Homo sapiens: one gene and its partners. The protein of the gene in region 7 interacts with the protein of the main gene of each other region in a pairwise test. Each region holds a gene or a part of one and is shown on either strand. Other genes may lie near its edges. The genes, in order: KLF3, ZNF581, MAB21L3, FAM13C, ZBTB8A, NKD1 and DVL3.

Evidence for each region.
Region 1: the proteins of DVL3 (region 7) and KLF3 interact in binary tests that used the Homo sapiens proteins (3 or more experiments, as listed by UniProt).
Region 2: the proteins of DVL3 (region 7) and ZNF581 interact in binary tests that used the Homo sapiens proteins (3 or more experiments, as listed by UniProt).
Region 3: the proteins of DVL3 (region 7) and MAB21L3 interact in binary tests that used the Homo sapiens proteins (3 or more experiments, as listed by UniProt).
Region 4: the proteins of DVL3 (region 7) and FAM13C interact in binary tests that used the Homo sapiens proteins (3 or more experiments, as listed by UniProt).
Region 5: the proteins of DVL3 (region 7) and ZBTB8A interact in binary tests that used the Homo sapiens proteins (3 or more experiments, as listed by UniProt).
Region 6: the proteins of DVL3 (region 7) and NKD1 interact in binary tests that used the Homo sapiens proteins (3 or more experiments, as listed by UniProt).

What each region holds. Positions count from the first base shown.
Region 1 is NC_000004.12:38,666,684-38,670,811, reverse strand, and holds part of KLF3 (Krueppel-like factor 3), read right to left. Parts: intron 1-4,128. UniProt on the Homo sapiens protein: Binds to the CACCC box of erythroid cell-expressed genes. May play a role in hematopoiesis.
Region 2 is NC_000019.10:55,642,367-55,646,653, reverse strand, and holds ZNF581 (zinc finger protein 581), read right to left. Parts: upstream 3,006-4,287; 5' UTR 2,880-3,005; intron 2,102-2,879; 5' UTR 2,083-2,101; coding exon 1,489-2,082; 3' UTR 1,031-1,488; downstream 1-1,030. Other genes in the region: ZNF580 (zinc finger protein 580), read right to left, coding at 3,627-4,145. UniProt on the Homo sapiens protein: May be involved in transcriptional regulation.
Region 3 is NC_000001.11:116,109,613-116,114,389, forward strand, and holds the start of MAB21L3 (protein mab-21-like 3), read left to right. Parts: upstream 1-1,786; 5' UTR 1,787-1,898; exon of another isoform or gene 1,899-2,016; 5' UTR 2,017-2,198; intron 2,199-2,794; 5' UTR 2,795-3,003; coding exon 3,004-3,051; intron 3,052-4,777.
Region 4 is NC_000010.11:59,264,640-59,268,767, reverse strand, and holds part of FAM13C (protein FAM13C), read left to right. Parts: intron 1-76; coding exon 77-215; intron 216-4,128.
Region 5 is NC_000001.11:32,542,151-32,546,278, reverse strand, and holds part of ZBTB8A (zinc finger and BTB domain-containing protein 8A), read right to left. Parts: intron 1-4,128. UniProt on the Homo sapiens protein: May be involved in transcriptional regulation.
Region 6 is NC_000016.10:50,641,885-50,646,012, reverse strand, and holds part of NKD1 (protein naked cuticle homolog 1), read right to left. Parts: 3' UTR 1-4,128. UniProt on the Homo sapiens protein: Cell autonomous antagonist of the canonical Wnt signaling pathway. May activate a second Wnt signaling pathway that controls planar cell polarity.
Region 7 is NC_000003.12:184,157,861-184,161,988, reverse strand, and holds part of DVL3 (segment polarity protein dishevelled homolog DVL-3), read right to left. Parts: intron 1-4,128. UniProt on the Homo sapiens protein: Involved in the signal transduction pathway mediated by multiple Wnt genes.

The DNA of each region.
Region 1 (4,128 bases), on a different chromosome or scaffold from region 7:
GGATAAATTAAGGGCAAGGGCCCTGGAATGATGGTACACCAGGTGTCCTACATGGAAACTCTGTCCAGCGGCTGGTGAAGCCAGCCTGAAACCTCATCTTCTAAAATGCAAAGTAAATGTGAAAACTTTGGGAGCCTGGGAGAGAAAAACTCCCTGGTTTGGAAACTCAGCGGAACAGGAACTCGATCTTACAAATGAAAGAGGCTTTGGAGTGTGAAGCTTTGGAAGGTACCAGGGATGCAAAGTACAGGAACAGATAAAGGAGTGGATTTCAGTGATTACACTTAAACAACAGTGGTAGTAGAAAGAACAGCATATAGGCCAGAGAAAAAACCCCACACTTGATTTGCAGGTCGCTCTCCAGGGCAGAATCCGCTGACCTCAATACTCATTTGATCTCTTATGTCCAGATTTGGCCAAACTCCACTGATTTGGGTTGAGACTAGCTCTGGGCCATCCCTGGCAGGATCCACAAGCCTTCCAGAGACTGGCAACCATCCTGAGGATGTCCCAGACTAAGCAGGGCAATTCTGGGTCCTCCTGCAAAGGGTCTGCCTCAGGGAGCGCCCCCTTACAGGAAACAGGGTAAGAGCCAGACCCAGGGGTTACATGAAATGCATGGGCTAGAGGGCCACTTAACTTGCTCTCTTCTGTCTCCAGCCCTTCTAAATAATTAGATGGAGAAATGATAATGAATTCAGCCTGCCGACACAATGGAGTGAGTTTCAAAAACCTCCAGGAGCCTGTTTTGCTAAAGAAACAATTTTACTACAAACTCTCTGGCCAACGGATACAAAATGCACAGATCATTTTTTTATTTTCTTACTGTTCCAGAGAATATGGTCACATTCATTACAGAATAAGGACAAGGCCAGTTAAGAGGACATCTTTTTTTTTTTTTTTTTTTTTTTTTTTTTTGAGACAGAGTCTCACTCTTGTTGCCCAGGCTGCAGTGCAGTGGCACAATCTCGGCTCACTGCAACCTCCACCTCCCAGGTTCAGGCAATTCTCCTGCCTCAGCCTCCTGAGTAGCTGGGATTACAGGCGCCCACCACCACGCCCGGATAATTTTTGTACTTTTAGTAAAGATGGGGTTTTGCCATGTTGGCTAGGCTGGTCTCGAACTCCTGACCTCAGGTGATCCACCCACTTCGGCCTCCCAAAGTGCTGAAATTACAGGTGTGAGCCACCGCGCCCGGCCGAGGACACTATTTTTTTGCTTTGGAAGAAATGAATCCTAGTTTTGGTTCAGAAACTGTCAACAGCATTGTGCCTCTTCTATGACTACTAAATTTCAAGCAAAGAGAGCTGAGTTGGGGGTAAAAGCAGGGCTATTCCCCGCCTTCAGACAATGCTGTCCCTTATCAGGGCAGACTGCTGTCTGGTTTCCTGTCTCCAGCTCGGGCATGACTGCTTAAGATGAGAAACATGGTCTAAGAAAGGAACAGAGTGGTCTTGAAAATGAGAATGCTAGCGACCACCATAACCCTCTTCCAACTCACTCCCAAGAGGAATTCTGACTAGAATATCACATACTAGCAAACTAGATATCAATTGTTTTAAGATTCTAGGGATTTGCTTTTTTAAAAAGCTAGAACCAATGATAAATGATGCACTTCAGAAAGAATCCAAGTTCCAGAATAATGTAATTGTAATTCCTAGTACCTTAAAGAATGAGGTTGTGTGTATTTTATTTTTCTTAAACTCAACTGGGTGTGAAAACAGAGAACAAGAAATGCTGCCTAAGAAATCTGTCGTTTTATAGCAAAAATGTTGATTTGAAAATATTAAGAAGGCAAGTATCTCAAGGGGCGATGGAGACACAATGAAATTAAATTAGGAATCATGATTTATATGGTTAAGAAATTAAAACTCTTGTTCCCATCTTTCTGGTAATCATAGCAACTATAAGATAGGATAATTTTCCCCAACTATTCAGCTTAGCATTTAGAAGCTTGCAGAATTTTTTTCTGATAGAATATATTAGACCCTAATTATCTCTATTAACCACTTCATCTCCCTGCAAAAGAGAGAAGAAAGAATTTGGGGAAAGCCAAATAAAGACTCTGTTTACCAAACCTAGTTAGATTGTTAACAACTTTGGAACCAAAACAAACAAAAAAACCTGCTTCGATTGGAGTTACTTATGAATTTTAAGCTTAAAAGTCTCTTGTCCTACAGGTCAGCTAAGTATTTCCAGCTGCTTTTCCCAAAGGAGAAAGAAGTTATTGGGACTTCTAAAACTCCCAGCTTTTTTCATAGAAGGTTATCAGTAGCCAACTATTTGATACTAATAACTCTCTTAATATCATATTTTATATTTTCCATTTATACATAAAGAATGTGGTGGAATGTGACATTTAAAACGCACCATTATCATCAATTTTGGGGAGAAGAGAGCCTGATTTGCTGCTTCAGCAACTCTTTAAATTAATTCCACAGAGATGCTGTAGATGATTCCTTTTGATTAAAAAAAAAAAATCCCCAAGTAAGTTTACAAAAGCACTTTCCAAAACTTTTCTTTTTCAAGCAAATATTTCCTTAAATCTTAGTTTCTCAAGAACCAACAGAAAACTAATATTAAGGCAGGTCTTAAATAGTTATCCTAGAAATTCATTAACCCACAACTGATAGAATATTTTTAAAAAATGAAAAATATTATTGTAAAACAAAAATGAGAAGAGCATTCTTCTTGTTTTCAAAATAGAAGATTAAAATTTTCCAAACAATCTAGCATTAAATGAATTTGTTAATGCCAGTTCTCCTTTGAGCTTTTTAATTCTTAAAAACGGGTTGGAAATGAGGTGTAGAATATTGCACAGTGAAATCTTTGTCCTTAAAACATTATCCTGATATTTAAATCTTTGTCCTTAAAAAGAAATAATCCCGGGATTTTCTCAATGTCTTAGGCTTTGCTTCAATGATTTTTCTAAAGATTTCTCCTTCCAAACATAAGCAAGACTTAAACTAAAGCCAGGCTGCCAACATTGCTTAAATTCTCCATCCACGGAAGCCACCTGGAGCAGCCTGGGTTAAACGTGAACGAGGGTGGGCCACATCTTTCAGATAATGCTAGGTCTTCTAAACTGTAAGGTGTTAATCCTGATCCAAAATTGACAGCTTCAGGGCAAAATGCCTATCTTAAAACAAACGCCCTAACCACTTCAACACAAGAATTACAAACAAATACAAACAAAACTCCTTTAGGTTTCTTTGCCAGGATGGACCCACGTTTCCCCAAATCACAATCTAGCAATAAAAAATTTAAAAAGGTAAAAGCATTTATTCACCCAGACAAATGCAGTGGAGCAAAGGGTGTACGTAAAAAGGTTAACTGACTTCTCATTATGACATAACACAGGCGTCTTAAGCAATATCAAGTGTGTAGAGACATGATAACTCCATGGGTGGGGATACGGAGTTTAGGGGCAGGGACCTCAGCCTGGTCTGGGCTACTGATCTACCAGAAAACAGCCTGAAACAGGAAAGAGCACACATATGCCACTTGGAATGTATGACGCAAACCCCAGCCTTGAAACAAAGAACAGGAAACAGCTCTGCTGGCTGTGCTGGAGAGAAAGCACAGAGAAACATTTAGCCGGCCCTCCCTGACCCTATATTCATGAGCAGCTGGAGTTTTTTAAGACAACAACAGGGGGGTGGAGGTGTTTGTTCTACGGGTGTGAATAATAACACCAGCTTTATACAGGGGACCTGCCCTATTTACAAATAAGAGCTGCCACATACAGTAAACATCATAAGTGAAATGTGATTTTATCATATTCAAGCAGCAGAGACCTTCCTAATGAACACTAGCCTCCCTCCTGATTTCTTTTGTCCCTTTCTGCCCCATTCCAATGGCTAGTCCCTAGCTCAGATCAAATTCCGAGTTAGGGTAATGATTATGGTTCAGCCTCAGTGCATCAAGAGGAAAAAAGATAGAGCACTGCTGTTAGGAATTCAGATTACAATTGGGGTACCCCACAGAACCAAAATTGGAGCAACTGTAAGCCTCCTTTAGTCACAGAACTAAATTCCAAGACAGACTGTGGGACATCTACAGTAACCCAAAATTTTCACTGTCTTTTTCAAATGCAGTTATACACATCTTTGCAGAGCTGCTCATCT
Region 2 (4,287 bases), on a different chromosome or scaffold from region 7:
AACCCTGTCTCTACTAAAAATACAAAAAATTAGACAGGCATGGTGGCGGGCGCCTGTAGTCCCACCTACTCAGGAGGCTGAGGCAGGAGAATGGCATGAACTCGGGAGGCGGAGCTTGCAGTGAGCCGAGATTGCGCCACTGCACTCCAGCCTGGGCGACAGAGCAAGACTCCGTCTCAAAAGAAAAAAAAAAAAAAAACTTTTGTTTCGAGGCCTAGTGCCCTGAGGGAGGCCGAGGTGTGTGGATCACCTCAGGTCAGGAGTTCGAGACCAGCCTGACAAACACGGTGAAACCCATCTCTACTAAAGGTACAAAATTAGCTGGGCATGGTGGCACACGCTTGTAACCCCAACTACTTGGGAGGCTGAAGCAGGAGAATCGCTTGAACCCAGGAGGTGAAGGTTGCAGTGAGCTGAGATCACGCCATTACACTCCAGCCTGGGTGACAAGAGCGAAACTCCGTCTAAAAAAAAAGAGGCCAGGCGCTGTGGCTCACACCTGGAATCCCAGCACTTTGGGAGGCCGAGGCAGGTGAATCACCTGAGGTTGGGAGTTCAAGAACAGCCTGACCAACATGGAGAAACCCCGTCTCTACTAAAAATACAAAATTAGCTGGGCATGGTGGCACACGCTTGTAATCCCAGCTACTAGGGAGGCTGAGGCAGGAGAATCGCTTGAACCCAGGAGGCATTGCGGTGATCCGAGATTGTGCCATTGGACTCCAGCCTGGGCAAAAAGAGTGAAACTCCGTCTCAAAAAAAAAAAAAGGAAACTTGGTTCACGTGTATTTTGCTTATCTGTATACTCTATTGCCATATAAAATGTGTTTGTAACAGGAGATTGTGGTTTTAAAATTGTTTCAGTTAAAAACATTCTTCCCAGATGACCCAGGTCTTCAGGAGCTGAGGAGGGGATAACCCCAAGGCAGGCCAACCTTCCCATTCCCCAGCCAGGCAAGCTGAGGTCTCCCTGCTAGACGGCCACCAAAGAGGGTCTGAGATGCTGTCTCTAAAAACAAACCTCGAGTGCTCAGAGTGGGAAACGTGTTTATTGTTTGATCAGTCTCAGGCCTGGTTGGGGGGTGGAAGGCAGGACTGGGGTCCCTTCCCCAACAACAGCGCAGAAGCCCCAGGAAGATGGCGCAGATTCCTGACGACCCACAGCCACCTTTTATGAGGCCAGAGACTTTACACACCACACTCCCCACCTCCATCCAGTCAAGGCTCTGCCATGGAACAGCTGATATCTTTAGGCTAGAGGACTCCATTCTGTGTAGGGGCTCATTCCCATCTCAGCTCCAGAACACGGAGGACCTGAAGATTACTCACGGATTCCTCCTTCAGGCAGGGCTCTGCCTTTGAGATGCGGCTGCTCTGTGTCTGTGTCCAGGGCCCTGAACACCAGCCTCAGGCTCTCACCAGGTGTCTGGACAGGAGTCCAGGCTCCCTGCAAAGTCCTGTGGTACCTGGGGCACCCGGCAGCCCGGCTCATGGATGCTTCCACCGCGTGTGTTTCTGCAGTGTGTTCTGCTCCATAAAGCGGCGAGGGCAGTGTGGACACTGAAACGGGCGTTCCCCAGAGTGCACCCGGCTGTGCTGGGCCAGCTCACCCGCATCCCGGAAGCGGCGAGGGCAGAGCGGGCAGCCGTGGGGCCGCCCACCACCCGCCAGGTGAATGGAATGGTGCCGTGCCAAGTGGCTGGCGCGCTTGAATGCCTTCCCACAGATGTCACACTCGAAGGGCTTTACCTCCGAGTGGGTGATGCTGTGTCGCTGAAGGTAGGACATGTACTCGAAGACCCTTGAGCACACGGGGCAGCTGTAGCACTTTTTCTGGCCTGGAGCCCCACTGGCCCCTGGCTCCCTCTGTGACTCCTCGTCCACCAGCACTGTGTAGGGGACACCCTGAGTGTCAATAAGCAGGTAGTGGTTGGGCCTTGGAGGAGATGAAGCCTGGGGAGATCCGATGGAGGAGGAAGGTCCAGGTTCTGGGGAGCGGCAAGTCCGACGGGGAGGGCCCTCCATGGTCTCAACGGAGGAAAATGCCAGAGGCTGAGGGCAGGGGGATGGCAGCACCAGCATCCGGAGGGCTGGCTGAGGCCTGGTGGATGGGAGATGGGATAAGAAGGTTATATAGAAGAGGGCAGCTCAGCACCACAGGCTCCATCCTTTTCCCTCCCTATACCCGGCCCAGGACCTCTGCATCCTGCTGCCCCTCAGTCCCTCTTTTCCAGTCCCGCTCACAGCTGGAGTCTGTGGCCCCCTAAAAGGTCCCCAGGGTCTTCCTCCTTGGAAAACCTCTCCTAGCCTCGGTGCTCCACCATACACTGTACTCACAGGATCTCTTGACCTCCTCTGCACAACCTGGACCTCGCTCTAACCTTCCTCTTTGTGCCCTCCCAGGTCACTGGGTGCCCCACCCCGCAGGCCTCCAGGCCTCTCCCTCCCCTCCTTCTAGCCCTTTCCAGGGTCTGCGTGTTGGCCTATGCTACATACTCAAGCCTTTCCTGACCCCCTCCATACAAGCCAAGCCTATTCACAGGGGCTCCGACGTTAGGACCCCCAGGTTCCGGCCCTCTCTCCAGCCACGTGTCTGAACAACTCCGTGCTCCCACCCGTCCACCCACCTCAGGTTCTCTCTAGTCCTCGCCCGGCCTCCACCAGGCTCGTTCTAGGTCCCAGCGCTCTCCGGGGTTCCACCCCCGGGGCCGCAGCCCTCGCTTTCTGGGCCTTTCTGTGTAAGTTCTCGCCCCCTCCAAGCTCCAGAACAGCCCCCTCCGGCGTCTGCCCCACTCCCGCCCCGGCCCAGGTACCCTCCACGCGGTCCAGCCCCTCCCGCCGCCCGCCCCCAGCCCCCTTCCTCCTCCCGGCCCCCGTACCCAGTGCAGCAGCCTCTCAGGTCCGGGCGACTCCAAGCGGCCCCGGGCTACCCTCGCAGTTGCAGGCGGCGGCGAGAAGGGGACCTCTGGGTGTGCCCCAGGAACTGGCGGCGCCGGCCGAAAGAGAGAAGCCGAAGGGAGAGAAGAGGGTCTAGGGAAGGAAGGTTGGGGCGGGGCGCCCGGGCCGTCGCGAAACGGCTCCGGCCAGAAACACACACCGAGAGGAAAGTACCCAAGCGAGGAAGATCCGGTCTCCACCCCCCAGCACCCAACGTGCACGCACACGCAAGGAAGAGCCTGAAAATGGAGTGCGGAATGTTTATTGAGCAAAGGGTCGGGGGCGTGGGCGGAAGGGGGGTAGATACAGAAATGAACCAGACCGTGCCCGTGCTCTTTATCATCTCTTCCCCGCAGACAACCACCGGTTCACCGCTCCAGAGAGCAGAAAACCAAGGTTTAGAGAGGTCATGTCACTTGCACAGGCTCACACAGCACAGCTGGACTGGAACCCAGTTCCGACTGGTTCCCAGGCCCAGGGAGGGGCAACGACTTTGGTCTACATCACACAGCTAGAAAGGGGGTAAGGAAGGAATGATGCTCCTCCCTTTGGAAGGTGGGGAAACTGAGGCCCAGGGTAAGGCAGTAACCTCAGCAGAGCCAGGGGGTGTGTGTGGGAGTGAGTGACGCTGTGTGGGTCAGACTTGGTGGCCCTGAGACGGGCAGGGCAGCACAGGCCGGGTCTCGAGCTTAGTGGAGGCGCACGTGCTGCGCCAGCTCCGCGGCGTCCTGGAAGCGGCGTGGGCAGAGCGGGCAGGTGTGCGGCGGCCCGGCGCGGGCGCGGTGCGTGGCGCGATGCCGCGACAGGTGGCTGGAGCGCTTGAAGGCCTTGCCGCAGGCGCCGCACGTGAAGGGCTTGAGGTCCGAGTGCGACACGCGGTGGCTCTGCAGCCGCAGAGGGCTGGCAAAGACACGGGCGCACTCCGGGCAGCTGTAGCCCTTGCGAGGGCCGGGCTCTCCTGGGGGCGCCTCGCGCTGGGGCGGGCCCCGGGGCTCCTCCTCCAGCTGCACCGTGTATGTGTAGGGGACCCCATTGGCGTCGATGAGGAGGTGGCGGCCCAGCCGCGGGGGTCGGGGCCCCGCCGCCGAGGAAGGAGTGGAGGAGGGGCCTTCCGCCTTGGGGAAAGGGGGAGCCTTGGGGGGCGGTGGGTCCATGGCCTCCGGAGAGGAGGACCGAGGGTGGGGTGGCCGCGGCGGCAGCAGCAGCATCTGGAGCGGCAGCTGGGAGCGGCGGAGGGGAGATTAGTTAAAATTGCCACTTCCTTTTAGGAAAAGTTTCCTAAAATGGAAAGCATCCCCACTATCACTGCTTGTTACCCTTTGTGCGCCACTGACTACCTCCCTAGCAAAA
Region 3 (4,777 bases), on a different chromosome or scaffold from region 7:
CATTTTGCATAATGTTTAATGCAAACAAATAAGCATTCAGTAATGTTTATTGAGGGCCAGTTGTGCGTTAGGTACTGAGGCTTCTCTGGAGATACAGAACAGACTGGCCCCTGCCTCGGGTTGTTCACTACTGTGGACTTCAGCACATCACAGACGATTATCTCTGCCTGGTATTCTGCATTGTCAGATTCAGTCTGAGTCATCTTGGGATTACAGGAAATCTTTTAAAAAGTCAGAGTTTGTTCCTGGCTAATATGGTGAAATCCCGTCTCTACTGAAAATACAAAAAAATTGGCAAGGCGTGGTGGCGGGCGCCTGTAGTCCTAGCTACTGGCGAGGCTGAGGCAGGAGAATGGCATGAACCTGGGAGGCGGAGCTTGCAGTGAGCCGAGATTGCGCCACTGCACTCCAGCCTGGGCGACAGAGCGAGACTCCGTCTCAAAAAAAAAAAAAAAGTCAGAGTTTGTAATCCTGCAAACTTTAACAAATTTGTATATTTAAGGTTGATTTTGATCAAGCTAACCTTCCTCCTTCTTGGAATTAAAATCTCAGACACTAAGTAAATCAGTAACAAACACTTCTGCTGGTAAACCAGGGCTAGCATTATCTCCCCGGGACTTCTCAGATTGGCAGCGTAGGGTTTTGCATGCCTTGTTAACCTGACTTGTAATAAGTTCTTAGTCTTCACAATGGAAACTGAGCCAAAGCAGGTTTACATTTCCGTACTTGCATTTGGTGTGAGTCATGAGAAAGGAGAATATTTATTTTCTGAGGAAGGAAGAGAACCTGAGCTAACTTTGAATTTCCTCAGTGGCCTAGCATACAAGTGCCTTAGGCTTACTGTAATTCAATCCTTTTGCGAATCCTATATCCAATTACCCAGATATCTACATCTAAAAAAAGCTTGTCTTCATCAAACTGTCAGACAGGAGCTGTCAGAGAGTCTATTTGTGGGACTGCCCTGTATTTCAGAGCATTTGCCCATAAGGAGCTAAATCATGGAGTAGGGAATTGGGTTGTGCCCCCACAACACACCTATTCCCTGGATATGACATCCTGGTAAAATCGGACTGTGTAGCTTCCCTGAGCACATGATTATTTCTTCGTTTCCTGATTGCTCAGTTGGCCCTGTTGGTTGCTTTCCCTGCTCACAGCCGGCAATTGTCGCTGGATCGTAGGGCAAGAGAATATTCCAGTTATAACATTTTGATCAGCTGCGGTACTGGAGCAATCAAGATAGGGCAGCCACAGGTGCAAAAATAATGAAAGTTTGTGCATCTGATGACAGGTGTCTGGGGTAACCCTCGAACATTAGGAAAGACCCCACCGGAGGAAAGGGACTCACAAGTTAATGATTACAGTGAAAGCAGAAGTAACAACAAAAATGAGCACATGAGAGAAACAGTGGGACTTTCGTAATGTTGAAAATGAGGTGGAGAGAGAATTCTAAATTGCAAGTTCAGAGAAAGAGGCTCTTGCTGTCTGTGAAAAACAAATAGTTTGGCACTACTATGATAAGAAAAGCCCAGGGAATAAGATTCTGAAAAATTTGGGAGCACTTGATATCAAAAGAAGGAGATTTAGAATTACATATAGAAACAAATGGAAAATCAAGGCTGTTTTGAGGGGTGCTATCAGAGGGTCATTGGAGAGGATGTAGCTTTACAATATTTATATCAGGCTGTGCATTGGCAGGAGTTCTGTAGAAGTTGGACTGAAAGCTGGAGGTAATGACGTGGGTGGGGCACAGAGCAGCTAGGGAGCTCTGATGCGGCTTTTGCTTGGGGCAGAGTATGGGAAGATATGCAAACGCTGAGGCCCCAAATAGTGCAGTGGCCTTTGTGGGCAGCACTTACAGGTGGGCTTGGAAACACTTGCCTTTGGAACATTGTTTAAAAGTAAGTAGTGCTCCCAGAAGGGCTGTAATTTCTTTAGATTATCTGATAGCAGACTCCGTGATGTTTACCAGCTTCAAGGAGATCAGACCATTGTGAAATTTTTTTTTTTTTTCTGTAGTAAAACTAGCCCCAGCCAGCCCAACTGGGAATTTACTGCCTGAGCTGTTTTCCAACATAAGTTTTGCTGGCAAAACCAGACGTGAGTGTTCCCTCGACTCTAAAGGGACCTGTTTACACTGACTTTATTTTTACTGCCAGCTTTCAAGTTGGAAGAGGGAAATTACGTTTAAAGGTCAGCAGGTGAGCAGAAGGATTCCTGACCAGCCATTCCTGTGGGTGTGTGCCCGTGTGCACTCTGTGTACGTGTGTGTGCCTGTGTATATGTGTGTGCCTGTGTGTACGTGTGTGCCTGTGTATATGTGTGTGCCTGTGTGTACGTGTGTGCATGCTTTTCTAAATGCCAACCGTTGTGCTCTGCGCTGGCTGACAAGACCTGATCACTTGTTTGCGGGCATAATGATGGGTGTCAGGCTGGTTGTTGGGCAGTTTCCTATTTGTTTATTGTAAAGAAGGTAAATCAATCCGTGGGATTTTCTGGCTTGGAGAGCAAGGGGTGTTTACTGTCAACAGGATAAGGACCAGGAGATATAAGATACTGAGTTCCACGGTGCATCTAGTGTTGGGACAGGAGCATAAAAGGTGGGGAGAAGCCAACTACAGGGTATTTCTGACTTGGATGGAACTTTTAAGTACTTGGGTGGGAAATACAATTTGGAAAATTGCTCTCTGGTGAAAGCACCAGTCAATGTAGCTAACTAAGGTATGATTAGGTTGGACTCAAATTCAATTTTATCAACTCTTCTTTTTAAATTCTTTTTTTTTTAATTTCCCAAAAGATGACAGATGGATTTTCACAATTTGGAAATAAAAACATGAGTGAAGGGTTCGGAAGGCAAGTCTCTGGTCCATTACACACTTCCAGAAAAACTTAGTACCCAGAGACTCACATTACTGGGAGTGCTATCTACTCACAAGTGTTGCACTCCATTGAGAAAAAAAAAAAAACCAGGAAGTTGCTGTTCTACTGAGGACTGACCAAGAAGCCATGAAATACCTTACTGTGGGAGACTTAGAAGATTGCCTACTGAATAAGGTAAGGACAGACCCGGTCTCTCCCATGAACCCCCTCCCCATTCACACTACTTCCAAACAAACCTTCGTCCAGAAAGGATCTCAGGCTCTTTCTAAAGACACATAAAATGCTCCTCAGAAAACAGACTGTCACCTATAACAATGTTTGGGGGCTTAACATATATCAGCCTTACTTCTCTTTGAGGGTCTGGTACCCAGAGACATGCTGAGTATAGAATATAGAATGGAGAGTAGGAATCTGGGGAATGAGGGGGAACTCCAGCTCTGCCACTGACACTCGTGTGGTTGTGAGTCACTTAACCTGCCTGAGCCTTGGCCTTCTTCTCTGTAAAATGGGAATAATAATAGGAGCTTCATGGGGTAATGGAAAAAGAGCTAATGAAATTAAAACAAAGCTTTTTAAAGACTGTGAAAGTACTAGGTTTTTAAATATTATTATATTTTTAGTACACATCAGTTAAGAACTTAATTTCTTCTAGATGGTCTAGATGGTCATGTCAAATGTTAGAACTTGAAGGAAACTTAAATATTACCTAGTTTAAGCCTTTTCATTTACGGATGAAGCTACTAAGGCATGATGTTAATGTTAAAACCAAAATATTTAAATTGACTAAGAAGTAGGCACTGGTCTGCAGTTTTCATGCCTTTACAAGTTCGAAAGAGAAGATCATTATCATAGTGATAAGTAAAATGTATTTCTTAGGCAAAACCATTAAGAGAGATAAATAAGGAAAACCTGGGATGATAAAAACTAGAGTAAACAAAGTGATTTCCCATTAATTCCTCCCTTTGAGGGCTCTAAGTGGAAGAGATATTGGCTGGCATTTTTTTCGTGGGTCCTGTATTTTTTGTAAGAAAAAACTCCAAACTTTTTAGTGTGGTGTTCAAGTAACTTCAACTGCTCTATCTTTCTACCCTCCGCTCCCCCTGCATTTCCAATAGCAGAAATCCTAAACAGTGTTCGACACGTTGAATCCAGTGTGTGCTCATGTTTTGTTTGGCCTGTAGATTATTTCTAATGTTTTTCACAAACATTTCAAAATAGATTTTGCATAGAAATCCAGATTTCTGTCTTTCCAGGGGAAAAAAATCAGAATATTTCGCAACTACAGGTCCCAGTTTCTTGCCTGGAAACTGTGTGCTGGGGCTGAGTGTTTGCTAGCCAGAGCACGTGCTGGCCAATTCTCAGGAGGCTGATCCTGTGTCTGACACTTGCTCCTGGTCCCCGCTGCCTCTCTCACGTGTGTCCCCTACTCCATTCCTGTAGGTGGTTGAGTCTCCCATTTCTGCCCAACAAGAACTGGGCCCTGAGCAGGCCAAGGGCCCCAGCTCCTCCTCGCCACTTTTCTGGCTCATATTCATCCTTCAAACTCAGAGTCCACTTTCTCAAGAAAGAGTCCCTGACACCCCAGCACAAAATGATTTTGCCCACATATTCACTCCCGTTATAATTAGTATTACTGGCACCATTTATTTGATCATGAGTTTGTATATTAACTCCTGACACTTTTCTATTATCATCTTGGTTGGCAACTTACATGTCATATCATTTCATTCTTTATAAGTTTCTGGAGGGAAGAACAGTGTCTTGCATACCTTTCTTTCCTTTGACATTCAGAGTATCTTGCACATATATGATCAGAAATATCTTTAGAGTTCGTTAAAGGCAAGAGTGGTGTGGAAGGCGACAGGTCAAGGTGCATACAGGATCTCATTTAACCTAATCA
Region 4 (4,128 bases), on a different chromosome or scaffold from region 7:
TGGTTTGTAGATCAACAGAACTGTTTACTGGAAGCCCACTGTTTTTGATACTCCTTCCTCCTTGTAATCACTGCAGGCCGCGGAGTTCTTCACGCTGCAGCTGTGGAGATGGCAAGGAGCCACAGACCATCACCCAGCTCACCAAGCACATCCAGAGCCTCAAGCGGAAAATTCGGAAATTTGAAGAAAAATTTGAACAAGAAAAGAAATACCGGGTAAGAACCCTGGGGTTTGACATAGGAGCGGATTGGTCAGAGGTGTCTGGATTCTCCTCAGCCTCTGTCCTTCCTTTCTGGGTGCCCTTCTTTGCCAGGGGACAGCTCTGTTCCCATGGGCCAACCTGGACCTATCATAGAGTCTTCATCTTCTATCTGTCTTGTTCTCACCTGCTGTCAGTTGATCTCTGCTAGGATATTTTCTAGTAATGGATTACAACTATTATTTCCAAACTTATTTGATTATTGATCTCACCTTTTTTTTTCTGAGGAACAAAATTTGGAAAGCTTTGAATTATGGTCTTCTTCTTCTTCTTCTTCTTCTTTTTCTTTTTTCTTTTTTTTTCACTTTTTCTCAATTGCATTTTGATAAGAACTTATTAAAGATCCAAGGGAGGGGTCTCCAATTGTGGAACAGAATGAGGGAGAGATGGTTTCTTTGACATTAAAGTATTTCCTTGTTGGTGAATGAGGACCTCTCAAGTGACATCTGTTCAGGCCACTCATAAGAACCAACCCTAAGCCTTCCTTTCCCCATCAGAGAGACACTAGTTTTCATGCTAGTACTGCACTGCAGCAAACATGAGCCTCCTTTCTTCTTATGTAAGAAACAATAGGGTCATAGGTAAGTGTCTTGATGGTCAGTGTTGCTTTTATTTTCTCCAGTAGTGACCATGGCATACAGAAAAAGCATATCCACAGAGAACTGGACAAAGACATTGGGTCTTCGGCAGAGAGCTCAGAATAGCTTGTTATTAGAATAAAAGAGAACAGGGAATAATCTCTCATACATCTTGAAATATTTAAAGGTTCACTAAACACTTGGTACAGAGGCAATTGGAAAGTTCTTGTGAGTATGAGAGTAAGTACTGGGGAGGGAGGTGAGAATGGATAATATTCCACTCTTCCATTCTTCCTGTCCTGCTTCCCACAGTGGCCTGAAATTCACTGAAGGAGGAGTTTTAAGGAGCAGATTTTAGCTTTGCAAAAATGGGGGAAAAATCAGTTTGGCTTTCAAGGCAACTTTAGTCAGGATGTTGAAGATTGTCTTCCCCAAAGTCAGGCAGTCACAGCTATTTATTGTCTTTTACAGAGCAGAAGGGAGCTCAACACATTATTAGTCCAGGATTTTATTTTACAGATAATGAAACTGACACCTGATGGAAATGACTTGCCTAAGATAGTTGTGTTCTATCAGGTCGCAACTTGGGTCAGTGGATTACAGATGAGTAGGTTCTGCAATAGAATAGAAGTAAAATTTTTAAGTGTCTGCTTTTTAAAAGATCCAGATATCCTGGGAGAAGTTTATTTCACCTGTTTGCTGCTGGCGTGTTACTGGATCTATGATGTCCTCGTATTGGAAAATACAGAGTAACAACCAGGGGCTCCATTCCCAGCACCTGTTAACACTTCTTATCTGGCAGTTCTTGAGTCAGACTATTTTGGATTTGAATCCAGCACGGCTACTTAAGAACTCTGTGATTTTGGACTTGTTATCTTTCTGAGTCTCAGTTTGGTCATGTGTAAAATGGAGTATTAGGTAGCGACTTCTTAAGTTTGTAAGTAGTAAATAAGGAAGTACATACATAATGCTTATTACAGTGTTTGGTACAAAGGAAGTAAATGGTCCTAGATAACACAAACTTTTTAATCTATGAGTTATATATTTAAATAGGCTACTCCATGGCAGTCTCTGCCTTGTCAGAAAATAAAGGAAAATTGTACATGTTAATTCTCCACTGGAGTTTTCTACCCACAGCCACAGATCTTGGATGCTTATTTTGGAAGAGAATTCCTCCTGGAAACATCTTCTGCCTTTGTCTAGAGTTTTCTGAAGCTAGAGCTCACATGCACATGCACACACATGTACACACACACAAACATAGACTTAAATACACATATGGAAGGACAGATCAGGGAGCAGTAGGGGAAGGAAGCTCCTTGGTCACCGCTGCTTCAGTGTCTATAGAAGTCTTTGTTATTATCAGAACCTCACAGGTCTCAGGAAACGCTTTTCCTTCCTGTCAGCATGCCAGGCTGTGCTTAGAGGTTTGACATGTCAGTGGGCTTTAACTGGTTGCTGTGTGTAAGGCTCCCCTTCCTGACAGCCTGACTGTGGAATTCATACCACCCATTGCTAATTTTTGAATCTGGGCTCCTGCTGGGCCTCTGTGCTATTTTGATACCCATGTATCACGTATATCTTTCCATCTCTGTTTACTGTAACCATTTTATATACCTACCCCAAATTCTCTACATCTCTACATCTGATTTTGCATTTGATTATTGGACTCTTGGGCTAAGAAAAGGCTGCGTCAGCCACACGTCTACCTTCAGTGGAATCAGGGAATGTTAGAATTGGAAAGAATCAGTCTTTTGTCTTATCTGACAACTGAAGATGCTGAGGCCCAGAAAGGGGAAGTGAGTTTCCCAGAATCACACAGCAAAGAATAGTTCTAGCCAGAACAGCAACTGAGGTCTTTTTATAACCCTCCCAGTAATTTTTCTAATGTGTCTTTTTGAACCATCTTTGGCAGATCACAAATCTCATACAATGGCACTTAGGAGGTCAATTTTAATTGCATTGAACAAAATCTAAACCTATGTAATTTCCGTGTGTATGACGTTTGGGGTCTTTTGAATCAGAATATTTCACTTAAGAAGTTAAAAGTCTTGAAGATCTACAGCTTGTATATGAGAACTTTCCATGTGATTTGAGAGCTGCCATCCATGTGAGTTTGATTTAACCCTTTTAACAGCTTCTTCAAGGGTAGGGAAATAAATTCATTTCAGAAACTGATTTCAGGCTTTAAATTATTTTGTCAGAAATTTAGCCTTAAATTTCTTCTAAGTTCTATGCACCGTAGTAAAAACTTATTTCTTTTGCAGTCACTGGCTTAAGGCCTTAGGATTTTGTGTGTGTGTGTGTTTGTTTTTACCATATTTCAAAAGATGGAAATAACTGTGTGGAACAGATCCAGTGAAGCATTGTTCAACAAGGTGTGTTCTCAGATCGGAGTGGAGAATTCTCTAAGGATTTTGGGAAACCAAATGTAAAACATTGACTTTCCGTGTAACCAGACTGCTACCCAAACCAAAGTACTAGACGATACAGTGCATCATTCTAGCAAACCATAGATAGGACTAGGCTAAGCTGTTTTAGAGAGCTGGGGATTGATGGCCACGTGTCACTGTCCATGGTCCTGAAACCAGGATTCCCCCCCCCCCCCGCCAAAACCCCTTCCCTATCCCTCTGCCATCCCTCAGGGAAACCAGTCTGCTATTCAAGCTCTTCTAGGAAAGAAACATTGTCAATCTTCTTTTCTATTTTAATTTTAAAATGTATGGTTTTTAAATCACTTTAGAACTGACAGAATCATGCCTTGTGTTTTACAATGAGCATACCTAAACTCATGTACACGTGATGATCCTGTCACACAGTAGTTTTTTCCTTTGAGTTTTAAAAATCTGCCATCTTCCTGTGCCTCCCTCTCACCAACAACCTGCCATTGTTACATGGATTTAGTGGATCCTTAAAGAAAAAAAATGACAGAACCCCTAGATTTGGTCATTAACAATGCACATATTTCAGGCTATTATGTTTATGATCATGTCACCTTGAGCATATTTTATACTTCCTTGTACATCCTTAATTTAAAGTAACCATTAATTTTCTTCAGCCTGCATGTAAGTTCCTATGGTAGCCTTGACTTGTTTAAGATCAGTTTTTACTGATCTGTGGGGGTAGAGGGACAGTATGTTTGACTACCACTAGTGAAGATATTAGAAATCCGTGTATCCCCCTAACAAACTGACTTCTCGGGAATATTGTCAGGTTTTAGAGATTCCGGAGTCTCCTTTCTTTAGCTTAGAGGATATAACTGATAAGAGCTAAATCTTCCAGTTTTTCAGT
Region 5 (4,128 bases), on a different chromosome or scaffold from region 7:
AGAGACAGGGTTTCGCCATGTTGGCCAGGCTGGTCTCAAACTCCTGGCCTCAAGTGATCTGCCCGCCTTGGCCTCCCAAAGTGCTGGGATTACACGTGTGAGCCACTGTATGTGGCCCTTTTACTCTATTTTTATGAGAAGGGCAGATACTCAAATTGGCAGGTGAAACGCATTTTATTCAAGACATATTTATTGAGCAACTACTCTATACCAGACTATACCTGGTCCTGAGAATATAGAGGTGATGAAATGTCAAAGGTCAGTGCTCACTTTCAAGCAGCTCACTGTCTAGTAGGAGAGAGAGAGAGTCAGAGAAGAGACAGGAAGAGAAGAGACTTCTAGACAAAGTGACAATACAATGAAGAAAATACTCATAGTAGAAGGGAACTGTAAAACAAAGAAAGCAAATGATTGTACCTGGTAGTATTGAGAAACATTTCCAAAAGGCTCAACGTTTAGGTTGGGTCTTGAAGGATGAAAAGAAGTTTATACATGAGAAAGAGGGCAAAAGGCGTTCTAGCCAGAGAGAGCACCAAATGGGAAGGCAAAAACAGCGTATTAAACAGCATGGCCTCCTAGGGGATGGTAAGAAGTTTGCTATAGCTAGAGACTGTGGGCCTACAGAAGGATGGCAGAAGATGAAACTAGAAAAGTATGTAAGAGCTAGATCTTGGAAGCCCCTCCAGTTTTGGGGGTTCTGAGGCACTTCTGAAGGATTTTAAAAAGAAGAAACACAGGATTATAGGTCTACCAATCATTAGCTGTGTGACTTTGTCAAGTTACTTAACTCTAAGCATTCGTTTCCTTTTTGTAAAATGAGGTTATTGACTGTTTAGAGGCTCTAAGGAAGTCTGTTAAGAGGATTAAATAAGATAATCGCTAAAATAAATAAGATTAAATAAGACAAATAGAAATAAGCACATGAAGAGATGTTTAGCATCATTAATCATTAGAGAAATGCAAATCAAAATCACAATGAGATACTACCTCACACCCACTAGGATAGTTTGCTACAATAATTTTTTAAAATTTTTTTCTTCTTCTTTTTCTATATTTTCTTTTTTTTCCATGTTTTTCCAGAGATATAATAATTTTTTAAAAAACATGAAAATACTAAGTGTTGGCCAGAGTATAGATAAGTAAGAACCTTCACACACTGCTGGTGGAAATATAAAATGGTACAGCGACTTTGGAAAACAGTCTGGGAGTTCCTCAAATGATTAAACATGGAGTTATCATATGACCCAGCAATTTCACTCCTAGGTATATATTCAAGAGTAATGAACACATACGTCTACACAGAAACTGATACACGAATGTTTATAATAGCATTATTTGCAACAGCTAAGAGGTGGAAACAATCCAAATGTCCACTGACGGACAGGTGGGTAAACAAAATGTGGTATACCCATACAATGGAATGTAACTCGGCCATAAAAAGAATGAAGTACTGATATGGTCACGCGCCGCATAACATTTTGGTCAACAACTGACTACATATACGACGGTGGTCCCATAAGATTATAATACCATATTTTTATTGTACCTTTCCTGTGTTTATTTATTTGTTTATTTATTTTTGTAGACAAAGTCTTGCTCTATCCCCCAGGCTGGAGTGCAGTAGCACCATCTCAGGTCACTGCAACCTTCGCCTCCTGGGTTAAAGCAGTTCTCCTGCCTCAGCCTCCTGAGTAGCCGGGATTACAGGCACCCACCGCCATGCCTGGCTAATTTTTGTACTTTTAGTGGAGACGGGGTTTTGCCATGTTGGCCAGGCTTGTCTTGAACTCCTGACCTCGGTGATCCACCCACCTTGGGCTCCCAAAGTGCTGGGATTACAGGCGTGAGCCACTGTGCCCAGCTTTCCTGTGTTTAGATATGTTTAGATACACAAATACTTACCATTGTTTTACAAATGCCTATAGTATTATGCTATACAGGATTGTAGCCTAGGAGCCATAGGCTATACCATACAGCCTAGGCGTGTAGTAGGCTATATCAGCCAGGTTTGTGTAAGTACATTCTATGATGTTCACACAACAACAAAAATCACCTAACAACACATTTCTCAGAACATATCCCCATCATTAAGTGACATATGACTGTATATACTACAACATGGGTGAACCTTAAAAACCTCATGCTGGCTGGGAACGGTGGCGTGAGCCTGTAGTCCCAGCTACTTGGGAGACTGAGGCAGAGGACTGGTTGAGCCCAGGAGGTCAAGGATGTAGTGAGCCAGGATTACGCCACCACAATCCAGTATGGGTGACAGTGAGATCCTGTCTCTAAAAAACAAACAAGTCTGGGTGTGGTGGCTCATGCCTGTAATCCCAGCACCTTGGGAGGCCGAGGCGGGCGGATCATGAGGTCAGGAGACCGAGACCATCCTGGCGAACACGGTGAAACCCTGTCTCTACTAAAAATACAAAAAATTAGCCGGGCATGGTGGCAGGTGCCTGTAATCCCAGCTACTCGGGAGGCTGAGGCAGGAGAATGGCGTGAACCCAGGAGGCGGAGCTTGCAGTGAGCCGAGATCGCGCCATTGCACTCCAGCCTGGGTGACAGAACGAGACTTTGTCTAAAAAACAAAAAACCTGATGCTAAGTTACAGAAACTAGTCATAAAAAATACATATTTTATTTATGATTTTATTCACATGAAATGCCCAGAATGGGTAGATCCACATAGGAAGTAGATGAGGGGTTATCAGGAGCTAGGGAGACATGGGAATAGGAGTGACTGTTAACAGGCATGGGGTTTCTTTATGCAAATGATGAAAATGTTCTGGAGTTAAGAGGGTCATGATGGTTGCACAATTTTGTGACCATATCAAAAAACTGAATTGTACACTTTAAAATGGGTAAATTTTATGGCGTAAGAGTTATATCTCAGGCCAGGCGCAGTGGCTCACACCTGTAATCCCAGCACTTTGGGAAGCTGAGGCGGGTGGATCACCTGAGGTCAGGAGTTTGAGACCAGCCTGACCAACATGGTGAAACCCCGTCTCTACTAAAAATACAAAAAATTAGCCGGGCATGGTGGCAGGTGCCTGTAATCCCAGCTGCTTGAGAGGCTGAGGTAGGAGAATTGCTTGACCCTGGGAGGCGGAGGTTGCAGTGAGCCCAGATCACACCATTGCACTCCAGCCTGGGCAACAAGAGTGAAACTCCGTCTCAAAAAAAGTTATATCTAAAAAAAAAATAGGAATTGTCCTATACACTGGGGTCAGTTACAACCTGATATTCACATTGAAAGGATTTTAACATAACATGCATTCATAGTAGTACTCTTGAGTCATCAAAAAAGGTTTAAGTTATTTTCAGAATTATGTGATTAGGTCATGGAAATCGGTAATGCATTTCAGATTTTCTTCTTTCAGTAGAGTGACTTTATACGTTGAAACAGCAAGTTAGATCAATTTATATGGGACATCCAAAATCCAAATGGAAACATTTTAAATATCTGTAAGAGTTAAATATTATAATAGTCCCAAGAATATAACAGAATTCAAGATTTCCATCAAGTTCAATGATCTTTAAAAAGGTGGTTGGGAAAGACAATTACACATTTTAGGAACCATTAAGTTCGAAAGTCTTTGGAATAGAAGCCAATGACATGTATTTCTATGAGTAGACTGAAGATTTAAGTAGCGAGTGTAACTTGAACTAAGGTTGTCGTTGAGAAGATCAACTCTCTTTTTTTGAGACGGAGTCTTGCTCTGTCGCCCAGGCTAGAGTGCAGTGGCGCAATCTCGGTTTACTGCAACCTCTGCCTCCCAGGTTCAAGTGATTCTCCTGCTTCAGCCTCCCGAGTAGTTGTGATTACAGGTGCCTGCCACTGTGTGCTAATTTTTGTATTTTTAGTAAAGAAGATGGGGTTTCACCTTCTTGTCCAGGCTGGTCTCGAACTCCTGACCTCGTGATCCACACCCCGCCCCCCCGACCCCCGAGGCCTTGGCCTCCCAAAGTGTTGGAATTATAGGTGTGAGCCACCACACTCGGCTGGGAAGATCAACTCTTTTAAGATATATAGTCATTAATCTAAAATTTAATGTGTCCCACCAGGGTCAGCAAAACTAATCTTGTTAGCCTGCTTAGCAAACGTTCCTGAGTCATAAAGAACTTC
Region 6 (4,128 bases), on a different chromosome or scaffold from region 7:
GGGGCCTTTTAAATCCCCCACGTTTAAGTCAATATCATGCCTCCCTCCTTTCCCCTCTCCTGGCAGAGGGACATAAGTCAGCCCTTCCCTTTCTGCCTTCACGAGAGCCAATTCAGCAACTACCAGAGAGAGGAAATTGGGGCCTCTTTCTCTCCCAGTCTCTCTGTCTTTGCCCTTTCTTTCTTGCCAACTTTTCTTTTTGTTCTTTCCCTCGCTTAAGAAGATGTTCGGCAGCACGGAAGGTAGTGCTGATCCCACATGTAAGCAAGCAAGCGGATCCTTGAGCGCTTTCATGGGTAAGAACGTCATAAACAACGTGCATCCATTCGGTTGCCGTGGGATCCTACCAAGAGAGCCTCCTCTCCGGGCTACTGTTTCCAATCCCTTCTCTGCGTGGTGGTGGCTAGAGTGTCACATCCTCTCTCTCCCGACTGACCACCTAGCTTCCTGATGTGTCTCTTGGGGTGACAAGCAGACTCTCCACCATTCAGGCCCCCAGATTCTGCCCATACCGGGCCTCCTCGTTGCCAGCTGTACCCGGCCATACAGGCCTGCACCAGTTCATCAAGCGTTCACCCTCCATCCACCCTTGAGGCCCTTGTACCAGCTGCTCCCTCTAACTTTCCACCTGGCTAATTCTTCCTCACCCTTGAGGTCACCCCCTAAATGTGGCTTCCTGGAGAGTCCCTCTGCAGTCCCCCATCTCCATCATGTCCCCTCTGTTATTCCCTCCCATGTCTCCCCAGAAGTTATCGCAGTGGATAAAAATGTCGTTTCTGGGTGGAAGCAGTCCCCCCGTCCCCCACACTAGATTAAAGCTCCACAAAGGTAGGTAGAGATGATGTCTGTTTTATCGAGTGCTGAGCATGGTTCCTGACACATAGTACTTGATCACTAAATCTTTGAAAGTACGGATGAACAGAAAGCCTGGAGATGACGGTGGTAAAGGCCAGCCAGGCCTGAGCAGGTCCTTTCTGGGCAGGAAGTGCCAAGTGTGGGTCTCTCTTTGCTCTGCCCACGTCTTGCCCAGAAGCTCAGTTTTGGCAGCTCCTTGCCACTGGGGGGTGGTCACACCACAGAGACTGGCCTGCAGTCTAACTAAACTGCTTAGCAAGACGGGGTGAGATACTCGAATGCCAAATTCTTTCTCCCCAGTGAAGAAAGGAGGGAGGAGGGAAGGAAGGGAAGGCGGGAAGTTCACATGCACCACACTGGAAATATTCTGGCCAGGAATTTCTGGACCAAATCACAATCAGATGCTGCCTTTTGAGGACAGAGTCAGAGGAAACAGAATCAGGTGATGTTGGCTAAGATGGCCAGGGGCCCATCTGGAGAGGATCTGGCCAGGGGACTTGAGCCACTCAGAGTCACCCTGGGCCCCAGTACCTAGATGTGCTGAGAGCCCACAGGCCGAGCCCAGTGACACCATCTGAATATCCCCAGGAGGTTCTGGGTTTCCAGTCTGTCTGCATGCTGTCACCCTTCTCTGGGGGCAGCATCAACATTCCAACAACTCTCAGCATCAGGAACCCGCAAGAGGGGTGCCCCTTTTCCCATCTGTCTTTATGAATTCTATCAACAAAGACACATGGAGTGTCAACAGCAGGCCATGTGCTAGGTCCCGCTGGGGGCGGGTGGGGAGGCCAGGAATGTGTTGTCCTTCAGTCGCTCAACAGACATTGAACAAGCACCTGTCTTTGCTGGGCCTTTGGGATTATAAGATAATCTGGTGAACAAGTGCTTTGGTGGAAACCAAATAATTAGAGGCATAGATAAGTACATACGGTGGATCCTCACCCTCCGTGGATTCTGTATTTACGAAATTGCCTATTCACTAAAATTTGTCTATCACCCAAAATCAATACTCATGGTGCATTCACTTCATTCGTGATATGCGCAGAGCAGTGAAAAGTCTGAGTGGCCCGACAACATGTTCTCAACTGAGGTCGAACAAGATGATGCTCTGCTTTCGTGGTTCAGTTCTCATCCTATACACAAACATCCTTCTCACAGTCTGTTTAGCATCATGCTTTGTGCATGTTTGTGCTTTGTGTTGGTGATTTGGCTGCTTAAAATGCTCCCCAGGCATGACGCTGAAGTGCCATCTTGTGCTCTTAAGCACAGAAGGCTCTGATATGCCTTGCAGAGAAAATATGTGTGCTAGATAAGCTTCATTCAGTCATGAGTTATAGAGCTGTTGGCTGAGTTCAATGTTAACGAATCAAGAATATATAGTAAATTAGGCATCTTTAAACAGAAGCACACATAAAACAAGGTTATGCACTGATTGGTAATGAAAATGTTGTGACCAGAAGCTGGCAGGAACCTAACCCTGTATTTCCCCTAGGATCAGTAGTTCAGTATGCGCTAACTCAGTGTCAGAGGTGACTTTATAAGATGTAACTACTGCGATGAGTGAGAATCAACTACAGTTACAAACATGATCAATGTTATGAATGAAGGGGACCACAGGGCACCCTGAGAGCTTGGGGCACCATCTTGCTGAGGCTGAGGTCTCGGCCACACCAGCAGCCCCAGCTCCCCTTGCCTCACGTGTCCCTGGACTTGGCTGGAGTAATGGCAGACAACGGAGTAGGACTGGTCTTTGTCAACCTGTATCAATGCCAGCAGGCTCCTGGAAAGGGAGGGTCATGTGGCTAGCATATGTCAGGCTTATGTTTAATCCTACCATGCATTAGCCACAAGTTAGGTAAGTTGCTTAACTGAACTGTAACTCTGTTTCCTCGTTGGTTTCCTCTCAAGGCTGTTTTGAGGACACTAGTGAATGTGGGCTGGGTGCACAGTAGGCACTCTGTAAGTGGCAGATATGGCAATGTGGACTCCTCAGCGATCCTGCAGCTTAGGAGTTGGGCAAGGACAGACCCAGATGTAGGGTAGCGAAGCATTGCTCCAGAGGCCACCTCTTTCCCCAAGGAAGGCACTGCTGGCATGGCTTTCAGGCTGCCCATCCCCACCACTACCCCTACTGTTTGTAGGACTTAGAGCTGCCACCCCCATAGTCTAGCTTCAAGCCAAGGGCAGTTTCATAATACAAATATGGTACTGAAGGCCAGAGACAGCAGGGGCTTGTCCAAGTTCACACCACAAGTCGGGTCTGGAAGGAACAGAGTGATCCCATCAAACTTGAGAGGGAAAAGTCATGTCCTCAAGTGTTTTTTGAGTGTGTAGCAGAGGCAGCATGCCACAGCAGCTGTCTCACTGGGGGCTCTGCAGCCGGGGTGGAGGACAGGTACCCTTCATCCATCAGGACTGCACCTCCTTTCCCATGAGCCTTCTGGGGTCACATTCTCCTAACTGCAGCTACTGTTGCTGTTTTACTTATCGAGGGCCTATTACGTGCCAGGCTCTGCGCTGAACGCTTCACGCCCACTGGATCATTTACTCATAACAGCTCAGTAAGGTAGTTACCCCAATTAGCCCCATGTTAGAGAAAAACACCAAGGCACAGAGGTGAGTCACTTGTCCCAGGTCACACATCTAGGAAGTAGTAGAACCAGGACTCAGCTCAGGTCCAAAGTCTCAACCATGGGCCAGTCTGCTCATCTTAGCCAAACCCCCAGGCTGCATTCTGTGGTCCAGCTACTGGATCCTGCAACCTTCTCAGACTCTATCCATGAAGCCAAGTGCACAGGATCTAGGACATCAGGTCCAGAGAATTTGGGGCCACATCTTCCTGGACCTGCAGATGGGCAAGGACCAGACTCTAGCCTGAACAGTGAGATGCAGCCCAGAGAAGTGGGAATCCACAGACAGAGCCTGGCCTGAGACTCCTACTGAGACTGCCCATGTGGCCACTCGGGGAGTTCCCGTCCCCTGCCTGATCAGCAGTCTTTTTGCTTCCCCCTCCAAGAGAGCTGGGGGGCATTCCTCCAGGAAGCCTGATATGTAACAAACTCCTTTCCCATTTCTTGCTTTGCTTAAATCTCCAAAGTCCCTGGAGCTGAAGCCAAGCGGGCCTCATTAGGTCCACTTTACAGAAAAGCAAACTGAGTCTCAAAGAGGGGAAGTCACTGAGCCGGGTACAATCCAGCCAGTCTTTTGAGTTGGGGCTTTCCACCTGTCTTGGCTGTTTAAGGAGTGCTGGGCGGGGTCTCACACAGCCTGGGA
Region 7 (4,128 bases):
GCATTCTTACCATTACACCACCTTATCTTCCTATAGTTAGAACCTATAATCTTCACATCAGCCTCAGTGGGCAGACTATGATCTTCATTTCATGAATAAGGAAACTGAGATGTATTCAGTTAACTTGTCCAAGGTCACAGGACTGGTAGATGTCAGAGCTGGAATTTCACCCCAGGCTTGACTCCAAAATCCATACTCTTTCCACTGTATTTCACATTCTTTCCTATATAATAACAGAGGTAATGTGGGTCTATGTGGAGAGTGGGTGCTGGAGGACAATGATGTGAGGCATGAAGGGTGTGGAATGTGGTCACGGAGCATGTAGTTTGGCCGGGGGAATGTGGTGAGGCAAGAAGTCAGGCAGTAACTACAGTTTGGGGCTAGGAAGGGGAGTGGAAAAGTTTGAGGACCCTCAGACTGTCAAATATGCCAGGAGTACAGAGATGGGAAGACATGACCAAGGGTAAGATGACGCATGCCAGGAGCTCTGAGCAGAGAGGGAAGACAGCAAGGAGGAGGTTGGGAAGTTCAGTCCCCACTTGTTCTTTGGTTTTTTTTTTTTGAGACGGAGTCTCGCTCTGTCACCCAGGCTGGAGTCCAGTGGTGCAATCTCAGCCCACTGCAACCTGCGCCTCCCGGGTTCAAGTGATTCTCCTGCCTCAGCCTGCCGAGTAGCTGGGATTACAGGTGCCTGCCACCACGCCTGGCTAATTTTTATATTTTTAGTAGAGATAGGGTTTCACCGTGTTGGCCAGGGTGGTCTTGAACTCCTGACCTCAGGTGACCCGCCCACCTCGGCCTCCCCAAATGCTGGGATTACAGGCGTGAGCCGCCGTGCCTGGCCCCCCTTGTTCTTAGAGCAGCTTCTGCCCAGAGCTGGGAATGTGCTTGGCTCCCTTGTGATGCTCACATTTTTGGACTCACAGCCAAGTTCACAGGCCAAGCCTGCCCTCCCCACTCCCATCCAGCTCTGGCTCCTCTATCATTCCCAGAGCCACAGCGACCCTCGGAAAGCAGCCCAAATCATCCTACTGCGGCCCACCATGGCAGAAAGTGTAGAAAGGACAGGCTAGAAAGAAGGGACACAGAGGTAGCTCAGACCCACCAGCCACTCTGGCCACAGGGTACTCCAGGTTGGCAGCCCCACAGGGCTCAAAGGAAAAGGGAATATGTGGGCCACATGGCACAGCCTGCTTTGGATAGGGTCTGCCTGTCTGGGGGAAATTGCTGCTGAGTCCCTACCTCCCTGCTCCCCTGGCAGGCCCCACCACACTGCTCCACACTACACGTTTCCTCTCTTTCTGGGGGTCATCGACAGGCCACCAAGGCTCTGCTGACTCAAAACAATCAGCTGATCTTCAGCAGCTTTGGGGAACCTCAGACAGGTCTTACTCTCCCACCATGGAGCTGAATGGCTGGGGTTTACATAGCACTTACACACACACACACACACTCATACCCCAAATGGAGTCAAACAAATAATGACTCAAATTCCAATTCTACCACTTACTGGCCCTCTTATCTTAGAGAAGTTTCTTAATTTCTCCAAGCCTTTGTCTCATCCTGGTAAAAGGGATCCTTAAATGCCTGGCATGATCCAGGCATACAGTAAAAGCTAATTATATTGTCCATTTTTAGCAGGATCCATACACTATTTCTAACTACGTATACATTATTAAGGGCAAAGCAAATAAACCTGTTCATCATTCATTGTTCATCCAATTAAAATGCTTTGACTGGCAGGGCACGGTGGCTCAGGCCTGTAATCCCAGCACTTTGGGAGGCCAAGGTGAGCGGATCATGAGTCAGGAGATCAAGACCATCCTGGCTAATACGGTGAAACCCCGTCTCTACTAAAAATACCAAAAAAAAAAAAAAAAAATTAGCAGGGCGTGGTGGCGGGCACCTGTAGTCCCAGCTACTCGGGAGGCTGAGGGAGGAGAATGGCGTGAACCCAGGAGGCGGAGCTTGCAGTGAACCAAGATCGTGCCACTGCACTCCAGCCTGGGCGACACAGCGAGACTCCCTCTCAAAAAACATACAATAAAATAAAAATAAAAAATAAAAAAATAAAAATAAAATAAAATAAAATGCTTTGGCTGAGGGCCCAGTGGGTTTCAGGTCCTGAGCTTGCTATTGTAGGTTTTCTCATGAAACATCAGACCCAGAGCCTGCCTTGTTCTCAGAGAGACTATGGTCCAGTGGATAGTTCATGGAAATATACTGCAATCCAGGAAGTGGTTGGAGCCGTAGGAGCAGCACATGTGTTCAATGGATAGACATCTGCTGAGTGTTACACAGGTGTCAGGATATAAAGATAAAATATACCAGGCACGGTGGCTCACACCTGTAATCCCAGCACTTTGGGAGGCCAAGGTGGGCGGATCACTTGAGGTCAAGAGTTCGTGACTAGCTTGGCTAACGTAGCAAAACCCCATCTCTATTTAAAATACAAAAATTAGCCAGGTGTGGTGGCACACACCAGTAGTCCCAGCTATTTGTGAGGCTGAAGCAGGAGAATCGTTTGAACCCGGGAGGCAGAGGTTGCAGTGAGCCAAGGTCGCACCACTGTACCCCAGCCTGGGTGACAAAGCCAGGCTCCATCTCAAAAAAAAAAAAAAAGGATAAAATAAGAGAGTGCCATGACAGTTCTCACAGAAAAGCTCAACCCAGAAGACAGGAGAATTTGAACCTGGAGGAGACAGGGGAAGAAGAGTCTGCAGGTGGAAGGCCCAGAGGGAGGACAGTGGAGCAGGAAGCCACACAGCTAATGACCTGATCGCCATGCTGCCCTCTCTCACAGCTCAAGGCCAGACTAGCAGTAGGCACCTTACTTCTATGAACCATCCACCATGCCCTCAATGCTGAAAATGTTTATCCTTCCTCCATTTCTCAAATAACTTAAGATGGCAGGCCAGGCGCGGTGGCTCATCACCTGTAATCCCAGCACTTGGGGAGGCCGAGGTGGGTGGATTGCTTGAGGTCAGGAGTTCCAGACCAGCCTGGCCAACGTGGTGAAACCCCATCTCTACCAAAAATACTAAAATTAGCCAGGCATGGTGGCTCATGCCTGTAATCCCAGCTACTTGGGAGGCTGAGGCAGGAGAATCACCTGAACCCGGGAGGCGAAGGTTGCAGTGAGCCGAGATTGCGCCACTGCACTCCAGCCTGGGTGACGAGAGCAAAACTCCTCAAAAAAAAAAAAAAAAGAAAAAAAATTTAAAAAGATGGCTGGGCCTACCCTGAGCTTGACAAATACTTTTGTAGACCAGATGGGACTTGAGGAGCCTCACAACTAGCACCTCAAAGGCTGAGCCAGGAGTGGAGAAACTGGAGAGACAGCAGCCTTCCTCCTCTGACCCACTTTCCTTCCTCTAGGGTCACTGACCTCCGCCTGACCTTCCTCTTGTGGGGCTCGGAGAAATGGTGGCCTTGTCACCTCTACAGTTTTCCAAGGCTTACCACCTCCCTCGGAGAGGATTCATCAGTAAAATGGTGATAATAATGACACCTAAAATTGTGCGATTAAGGATTTAGATTTTTGGATCCAGATTCCTGATGTCAAAGCAAGCTCTGCTCTGCCTCTTATTAGCTGTGTGACCTTAGGCAAGTTACTTAAGCTTTCTGTGCTCTAGTTTCCTTTTTTTTTTTTTTCTGAAACACGGTCCCACTCTATTTTCCAGGCTGGAGTACAGTGGCACCATCACAGCTCACTGCAGCCCCAAACTCCTATGCTCAAGTGATCCTCCTGTCTCAGCCTCCCAAGTTGGGACTACAGGCACAAAGCATCATGCCTGGCTAATTAAAAAATTTTTTTGTAGAGATGGGGTCTTGCTATGTTGCCAAGGCTGGTCTCAGATTCCTGGCCTCAAGCAATCCTCCCACCTCAGCCTCCCAAATTGCTGAGATTACAGGTGTGAGCCACCATGCCTGACAGAGTTTCATTTGTAAACTAGAGATACTATTACGCTATCTATTTCATAAGGCTGTTTCGAAGATTAAATGAGTGAAGATTTGAAAAGCATTTAGATTAGTCCCTGGCACACTAAGCATAAAAGGCGTGTGTTAAATAAATGAAACATATATATATGCTCTTCAGCTATTAGTCCTCTGTGACAAGACAGCTCT